Linked DNA regions of Homo sapiens: region 1 is linked to region 2. Evidence: fine-mapped expression QTL. A gene starts in region 2. The other region holds a variant in brackets. All regions are shown on one strand. Distances are from middle to middle.

What was found. PIP is the estimated chance that this variant, and not a neighbour inherited with it, causes the effect.
Region 1: its variant is the best candidate, but not a certain one, in a credible set for the expression of AREL1 in whole blood (TOPMed, PIP 0.71).

Annotation. Positions count from the first base shown.
Region 1 is chr14:74,770,185-74,774,581 of GRCh38, forward strand. The region is part of intron 1 of YLPM1 (YLP motif containing 1); the gene reads left to right. Among named protein-coding and RNA genes, the nearest start is that of YLPM1, 9.1 kb to the left of the region's middle. The variant G/T (reference allele first, on the strand shown) is at 2,342.
Region 2 is chr14:74,710,650-74,715,046 of GRCh38, forward strand. AREL1 (apoptosis resistant E3 ubiquitin protein ligase 1) reads right to left here and starts at 2,431. Exons shown (of 20, transcript NM_001039479.2): 1 at 2,284-2,431. It overlaps FCF1 (FCF1 rRNA-processing protein), which reads left to right and starts at 2,495. Exons shown (of 8, transcript NM_015962.5): 1 at 2,495-2,551; 2 at 2,836-2,903; 3 at 4,223-4,294. The coding sequence starts at 2,549. RefSeq lists an enhancer at 2,329-2,608.

The sequences.
Region 1 (4,397 bases), 60 kb after region 2:
AAAAAAAAAAACCTAGCCAGGCATGGTGTTGCATGCCTGTAGTGCCGGCTACTTGCGGGTGGCTGAGGTGGGAGGATTGTTTAAGCCCAGGAGTTCTCGTGCCACTGCACTCTAGCCTGGGCAACAGAGTGAGACCTAAAAAAAAAAAAAATGAGTAGGCCAGGTGCAGTGGCTGATGCCTGTAATCTCAGCACTTTGGGAGGCCAAGGCAGGCGGATCACTTGAAGTCAGGAGTTCAAGACCAGCCTGGCCAACATGGTGAAATTCTGTCTCTACTACAAATACAAAAAATTAGCTGGGTGTGGTGGTGCACGCTTTTAATCTCAGCTACTTGGGAGGCTGAGGTGGGAGGATCACTTGAACCCAGGAGGCAGAGGTTGCAGTGAGCCAAGATTGCCCCACTGCTCTCTAGCCTGGGCGACAGAGTGGGACTCCATCTCAGTTAAAAAAAAAGAAAAAGAGTAGAAATTAACCAGAAGTTAGAATTCAAAGAATTAAGTTCAATAAGGCTCACTGAAAGCTCAGGGTGAGGATGGTAGGTATGAACTAGATCAGGGAAGGCCTGTAAGGACTTCATTCTAAGGGCAGTTGGAAGCCATTGAAGGATTTTACATAGGTGAATGTGACAGATTGGCATTTTTGAAAGCTCACTCTGCTTGCAGTGTGGAGAGCAGAATTAAAAGGAGCAAGAGTGATTTAGAGAGAATAGTTATTGAAGTAATCCAGGCAAGAGATAATAGTGGTTTAGACTTTGATGGTATTAGTTGAGATGGAGAGAAGTGGGAAGAGTGGAGAAATATTTAGCTGCTAGAATTCACTTTGAGGTTGAGTAGTTATGGAGAGGGAGGCATCAAGAATGATTCTTAGGTTTCTGGGCTGGGCCGTAGGGTGGATGGTGGTCAAATTTACTAAAACAGAAAAACCTAAAGGAGGAGGAGGAAGAACATTTCTGGGGGTGAGGAGAAAATCATGAGTTAGGTTTCAGACATACTGAGTTTGGGGTTCTTGAGACATAGATTCCAAATGGAGATGTCCACTTGGAAGTTAGATATAGCTCTGGAGTCTAGATGTAAGATCTGGGAGACATAGATTTATAAGTCATCAGCATAAAAATGGTATTTGAAGACACAGAAATAGATGAAGCCTCTCAAGGAATGTGTGTAGAGTAAGAACTGAGGTTAAAGGACATTAAGCCTAGCTCCACAAATAGCAGTATCTAAGGGAACCAATGAAAGAATGGCCAAATAGGTATTCATATTAGGTTGGTGCAAAAGTAATTGCAGTTTTTGCTATTACTTTTAATGGCAAAACCACAGTTACTTTGGCACCAGTGTGATAGGTGGAAAATCAAGATAGTGGATAGTGCGTTGCCATGAACGTCAAGGAACAGACTCTAGGAGGAGGGAGTCGTCAGCTGTGTGAAGTACTGCTGAGACGTCAAGCAAGATAAAGACTGCGAGTTATCTTTTGCACCTACTGACATGTAGATTATTGTTGACCTTGGCAGGAGCAGTTTCATAGTGACTGAAGCCATATTGCATTGATTTGAGGAGTGATGGAAGGTGAGGAAATGGGGATGGTGAGTACAGACAACTCTTTCAAGAAGTTTGACTGAAGGAGAGAGAGAATGAGGGAAGGAGCTGGAGGAATAGATGAAGTAAATGAGCATTTAAAATAAAAATAGGTGGGGACTAAGCTTATCTGGTGACCCTGATTCTTACAGTAGAATGTGAATCTCAAAAATATTTAAGCCTATTTTAAATAAATTTCTAAAATGGAAACCCAATTCATTATTTTACCAGGTGTCCTCCCTGCCCCCTGCTTTAGAATATAAGACATAGAACATTGTCTTATAGGCATTTATGATAACCTGGATAGGGAAGGTAATCTTCTAAAATTAATCTTTAAAACATTACACACAAACACTCACCTCCTTTATAGTTCTCCACTTGGAAAATCATTTAGTATCTAGTTCATTACTAGCAGCAGTGGTCAGTAAGTGCTTCCTGAGTAAATTAAAATCAACATCTTTCTTTTTTTTTTTTTTTTCTCAGAGAGATGGGATCTTGCCATGTTGCCCAGGCTGGTCTGAATTCCTGGGCTCAAGCGATATTCGTGCCTCGGCAGCATCTTTCTTAATAACAGTATTTGTGACAAATAGTTCTATATTCTTAATTTTTTTTTTTTTTTTGAGATGGAGTCTCGCTCTCACCCAGGCTGAAGTGCAGTGGCGCGAGGATCTGGGCTCACTGCAACCTCCGCCTCCCAGGTTCAAGCGATTCTCCTGCCTCAGCCTCCCGAGTAGCTGGGATTACAGGCATGTGCCACCACACCCAGCTAA[G/T]TTTTGTATTTTTAGTAGAGACAGGGTTTCACCATGTTGGTCAGGCTGGTCTCGAACTCCTCACCTTGTGATCCGCCCGCCTTGGCCTCCCAAAGTGCTGGGATTACAGATGTGAGCCACCGCACCCAGCCAATAGTTCTACATTCTTTATGTTTGAAATCCCTTCATTCAATCTCGTTTTAAATGTGACCTATATTATGATTTCCCTCTACCTATAAAACAACATCCCATATGAAATGGAGTTATCTGATATGATGGGACATTCAGAAGAGCTGGCATCATTAGCAAGTTCAGGCATTTTTTTTCTTTCTAAAATAGGGATGATCACACTTCTCTTAGGGTCAGTAAGGACATTTGTGAGTGATATCATTATTATTTATTTGCAGAGCTTCAAAAATGTGCTGAAGCCTACCATAGGATTGAATTAGATCTGGTTACTACTTATAGGGTTCATATTAAATAGAAATTGACCTACAAGGCGGCCGGGCACGGTGGCTCACGCCTGTAATCCCAGCACTTTGGGAGGCTGAGGTGGGCGGATCACAAGGTCAGGAGATCGAGACCATCCTGGCTAACATGGTGAAACCCCGTCTCTACTAAAAAATATAAAAAATTAGCCGGGCGTGGTGGCGGGCGCCTGTAGTCCCAACTACTCAGGAGGCTGAGGCAGGAGAATGGCGTGAACTCGGGAGGCGGAGCTTGCAGTGAGCCGAGATCGCGCCACTGCGCTCCAGCCTGGGCGACAGAGCGAGACTCCATCTCAAGAAAAAAAAAAGAGAAATTGACCTACAAGGCATACTGTCAGTGAATCAACAAGTACTTCAGCCCTTAACAAGTTCTTAACCCTGGTCTGGATCTAAGACAAAGCATGAGAATAGGTGATGAAGAAGCTGATAAAGAATCTGGACCTGTACAGTTTTCATTCTGTACAGTCTTCATATCTGTAGCATTGGCTTAGTTTGTGAAAGATAGTTTGCATCTTTGTATCTTTTAATAATGCTTTCAAAGCAACTTTAAAAAAGGAAACTTTTAACTTCTACTTGAAAGAGAATGTACTAATTTTTTTAAAACTGAAGGATAAGTCTGTTGATGTTTTCAGTATTAAAATAATGGAAGGAAGTGTTTTAATGCTACATTATTATTATTATTGGCTTTGGCTTTCATGGTCAGTGTGCTGTTTTCTTTCTTTTTTTTTTTTTTTTTTTTTTTTTTTGAGACAGAGTCTTTCTCTGTTGCCCAGGCTGGAGTGCAATGGCACGATCTCGGCTCACTGCAACCTCCGCCTCCCAGGTTCAGGGGATTCTCCTGCCTCACCCTCCGGAGTAGCTGAGATTATAGGTGTGTGCCACCACACCCTACTAATTTTTGTATTTTTAGTAGAGGCGAGGTTTCACCGTGTTGGCCAGGCTGGTCTCGAACTCCTGACCTCAGGTGACCTGCCCGCCTAGACCTCCCAAAGTACTGGGATTACAGGCATGAGCCACTGTGCCTGGCCAAGTGTGCTGTTTTCTTACGTTGAATAGTAAAAGTACAGATACTCTTTGACTTACAGTGGGGTTACATCTCAATAAACCCATTGTAAGTTGAGGATAATGTAAGTTGAACATTTAATACACCTAGCCTACTGAATACCATAGTTTAGCCTAGCTATTAAATGTGCTCAGAAAGTTTACATTAGGCAAAGTCATCTGGCCACACAGTACACAGTAGAGTATTGGTTTTTTTCTTGTTTTGTTTTGTTTTCTTTGAGATGGAGTCAGTGAGTGGTGCGATCTTGGCTCACTGCAACCTCCACCTCCTGGGTTCAAGCGAGTCTCCCGTCTCAGCCTCCCAAGTAGCTGGGATTACAGGCACCTGCGACCATGGCCCAGCTAATTTTTTTGTATTTTTTTTGTTTTGAGACGGAGTCTCGCTCTGTCGCCCAGGCTGGAGTGCAGTGGCGTGATCTCGGCTCACTGCAACCTCCGCCTCCTGGGTTCATGCCATTCTCCTGCCTCAGCCTCCCAAGTAGCTGGGACTACAGGTGCCTGCCACCATGCCAGGTTAATTTTTTTAT
Region 2 (4,397 bases):
TGCTCCAGAAAGATTAGGAACTTCTAGTGACCACAAATGGGGTAAAGCAGAAGGCACATACAGTATCTGTAGCTACCATTTCTACATCAAAAATTCAGTGCCCACAGATATGTAAACTATTAAGCCATCTAAATGAATGTGTGCCTGAAAGAGAAAGGAGAAGCAGAAAAAGTTTACACCCAAATCAACAGAAGAAATCACCCTGCGATTGAGCATCCCAGGACCTGAAAACTTAATGTTTTGAGGTTTATGAACACGTTCAAGTTCCAGTGCAACTATGTTAAAATAAAATTGGGCTGGTGCCAGGCACGGTGGCTCACGCCTGTAATCCCAGCACTTTGGGAGGCCAAGGTGGGCGGATCACCTGAGGTCGGGAGTTCAAGACCAGTCTGACCAACATGGAGAAACCCCGTCTCTACTAAAAATATAAAATCAGCCAGGCGTGTTGGCGCACGCCTGTAATCCCAGCTACTCAGGAGGCTGAGGCAGGAGAATCGCTTAAACCTGGGAGGTGGAGGTTGCAGTGAGCCGAGATTGCGCCATTGCACTCCAGCCTGGGTAACAAGAGCGAAACTAACTCCGTCTCAAAAAAAAAAAAAAAAAATTGGGGCTTGGCACAGTGGCTCACGTCTGTAATCCCAGAACTTTGGGAGGCCGAGGTGGGCAGATCACCTGAGGTCAGGAGTTTGAGACCAGCCTTGCCAACATGGTGAAACCCATCTCTATTAAAAATACAAAAATTAGCAAGGTATGGTGGCACACACATGCCTGCAGTCCCAGCTACTCGGGAGGCTGAGGCAGGAGAATTGCTTGAACCTGGGAGGGGGAGGTTGCTGTGAGCCGAGATTGCGCCACTGCACTCCAACCTGGGCAGCAGAGGGAGGCTCTGTCTCAAAAATAAAATAAAATAAAATAAAATAAAATTGGCATAAAATTCCAACCCTGCCACACATCCTCAAGTTGGAAGACACACAATGGTAACAACAGAAAACACTCTGAGTAGTCTGGTTTACACTCTTCTAGGGACCTCGCATGTTAACTATGAATAAACATAAGTCCTGATAACATCCCAATAAAAGAGTGCTACTATGATTATCTCCATTTTACAGATAAAGAAACTGAGATGCAGATAGATTAACTCACCCAATGTCATGGCGAGTTATAAGGCAGAGCAAGGATTTTAACCCCATCAGTCAGACTCCAAAGTTCGTGTTAAACAATAAACGTGTTTTCATCATAAGGGTTATACAATGGTCACCTTCTTTTTTAAACCTGATAACATATTTTACTTCCAACTCTAGGATAGCATCATGCAATAAGAAAAGTATGACAGAGGTACCCATTCCGTTCCCAGCTTGATCAGTAGCTGGAGAATGGAAGACAAAGTGCAAAAAAAAAAAAAAAAAAAAAAAAAAAAAGAAAAAAAAAGAAAGAAAGAAAGAAAGAAAAAGAAAAAAAGAAATACAAGTACAGACTTTGGAATCACGAGACTCAAACAGACCCCTGAACAAAGTCTGGGGCTCAATTTCCCCATATGTAAAATAAAAGAATTTATGTTATTGAGAAGGTCAAAGAAGGTAATATGAATAAAGTGACAAGTACAGTATACAGGATGGGGGTTTTCATTTAAAGTTTACAGACACCCAGAGGGTCCACGGATGGGCTTCAGAGTCCACCAATCTCATTAAGTGTATTACAAACTGTATGTGTGCCCATTTTTTAAAGAATTGTTCCTGGCTTTCCACAAACTTTCAAGAAATAAGTTATCTCCAAAAAGTTAAGAACCACTGGAATACATAGCAGGTACTCAAAGAAAAAAGCTACCTTTCGCTCCTTGTTCTCACAAATTCTCCCTTTTTACTTAAAGATGACACACCAAGGCTTCACAATAAATGTGCATTGTATCTCACCATTTTCTTGGCTTGGGTAAGTAGTAACATATGCAAGCTTATGCCCCAATTCTCTAGCGATAGTCTAGGCCCTCAAACACTGCTTCATTTCTCTCTTCACCGAGAGGAGTACACGGTATATACTCGAGAACAATCATCCACCTAGCTGCACAAAGCACCATATCGGCTAGGAAAACCAAATAGGAACCACAGCCTCAGGGCTGGACCATAGACACCGGATACCCCAACGCTACAGGGTGAGGAGAATGTGTTCCCCCAAACTACTGGGCAAACCAGGAGTCTGAACCCCCCTACCCTTTTCCTCCCTCTCTCTCTGGAACTCTGGTAAAGGCAGGTCTTCTGGGCTCTGCCTAAGGCTGGAGAGAAACGTTACCCGAGCCGGGGGTTGCAGCGCGACGAAGTTCCACCTCCGCTGTCCTGGGAAGGGGCGGCAGCACTCAGCAGAAGACGGGCTCCCCACTCTCCCACCAACAGACCCCAGAGTTGGTCTCCACCCGGCCTGGGAACCGGCTCGGGGGATTGCCCTTTCCCCAAGGAGTTTCCGCTTCCGGGCTATCCTTTGCCGGAAGCAGTATGTGAATGACGTAGAAGTATTGCGCCGTTGGTGATTACGGAAGAACCAGGAGTTTGGCGTGACCATGGTGAGAGAAGACGGTCCAAGAAGGGACGTTATCAGGCCACTTTTTGGGTGGAGAAGGAGGTAGTCAGACCGTGGCCAAATTTCCTTCACATTATCCTAGCATATTTTCATTCTGGTCTTAGCTCTTAAACTTCTCCAAGCGGTGACTGTTATGCTTTACAGAGTGGGGAAGAGGGTCTGGGTTATTTGAGGCAAGAAGGGAAGGCAATAGACAAGAGAAAAGAAGAGACTTTAAAAGATGCCGTGTGTTTCCAACTTTTTTAATTCTAAAATTTCTGTTTCAAGGGGAAGCAAAAGAAAACAAGGAAGTATGCGACCATGAAGCGAATGCTTAGTCTCAGAGATCAGAGGCTGTGAGTGTCTGGAATCAACTGCCCAGGGATATTCTAATAAGAGTCTAGAGAGGATAAGTAGTAAAAATGTTTGTTGTTATTATTTTGTTTTTTGCTTATTATCGTGTCTTAGATTTATATAGCATGAGATAGCCAGTGTTTAACAGTAATTTAGCTGCTGAGCGATCACACTGGGAAAGGCGATGGGAATTAAACATTTCTTAAGTGTTCACTTTTTCTACCGTTATATGCTTTGTCTGCCATATCGCATTTAAACCTCATGTCAGTTCGGTGAAGTCCGTATAGTTCTCTTTATGTTTTTACCATTACACTACTACATTCCCCTGGGGTGGGGCGAGGGGAGTGTTTCTTGTTGAAAGATGGCAAGGTTAGAGACCTTGTTTGTCTGGCGTTTCCAGTGCCTGGTACTCAAATATTTTTGTCAGAGAAAATGGGAAAACTCCAAGATATCTCCATTTTATAAGTCTTACTAATATAAGAATCCAAATCACTGTGGAAGAAGAAAGTGAAGTGAAATTCCCTAGTATGAAGAGGATCAAAGCGGTGTCCCTGCTTAAGTGTAGAATAAGCATAGCTATTAAATAAAGACTGATCTTCACTGAGTTTAAGAGTCTCAGAAAGCCGGGCGCAGTGGCTCACGCCTGTAATCCCAGCACTTTGGGAGGCTGAGGCGGGTGGATCACCTGAGGTGAGGAGTTCAAAACCAGCCTGGCCAACACGGTGAAACCCTGTCTCCACTAAAAATACAAAAAAGAGTCTCAGAATAAGAGAATAGTCGTTAAAACCTTCAGAATTATTATTCTCAGCCTTTAGTGTGGATGTATTGTGTAATTTTTAGGAATGACACTCCATTAATAATAATTTCTTTCTAGTTAAGGGTTAAGTTCTGTATATGCGTTTTTACATTTTAGCCCTTTATAAGAAGCATATGGGGTAATACTTTTCCCCCAAAAGTTAAAGCATCTGAATCTTCAGAAGATAACTGTCACCCTTTTACCCATTGCTTGGAAGTGGATTGTGATCCTTGATGTGAGAGATTCTGACTAAAAAATAAATATAGTATAATCAGCTTTTATTTACTCATTAACAATTCTTATGCATTATTGGCATTACTGGTTAATTCTGATACTTCCAGGTACTGTGCTTTGCACTAGAGTTATTTGCTCAGAAAGAGTATGCTGATATTAACATGAGGATATCACAAAGTAGGATTTCTTCAGTAGACCAAAAAAAAAAAAAAATGGAACTTTAGATTTTTGAGATTTTAATTGCTGTGGTTTTTCTTCTCCCTTGGATTTAATTTACCTTTTTCTTCCTAGTAAAGAAAAGGATAGATTAAAACCTAAAAAGAAAGAAAAGAAGGATCCCAGCGCATTAAAGGAAAGAGAAGTGTGAGTAATCAAACGTTTGAAGTTTTCCTTTAAAACCATAGACCTCTTAGAAATCCAGGCTTTCCCTGAGCTGGTTTGCTAACTTATTTGTTAGTAAGTCTAG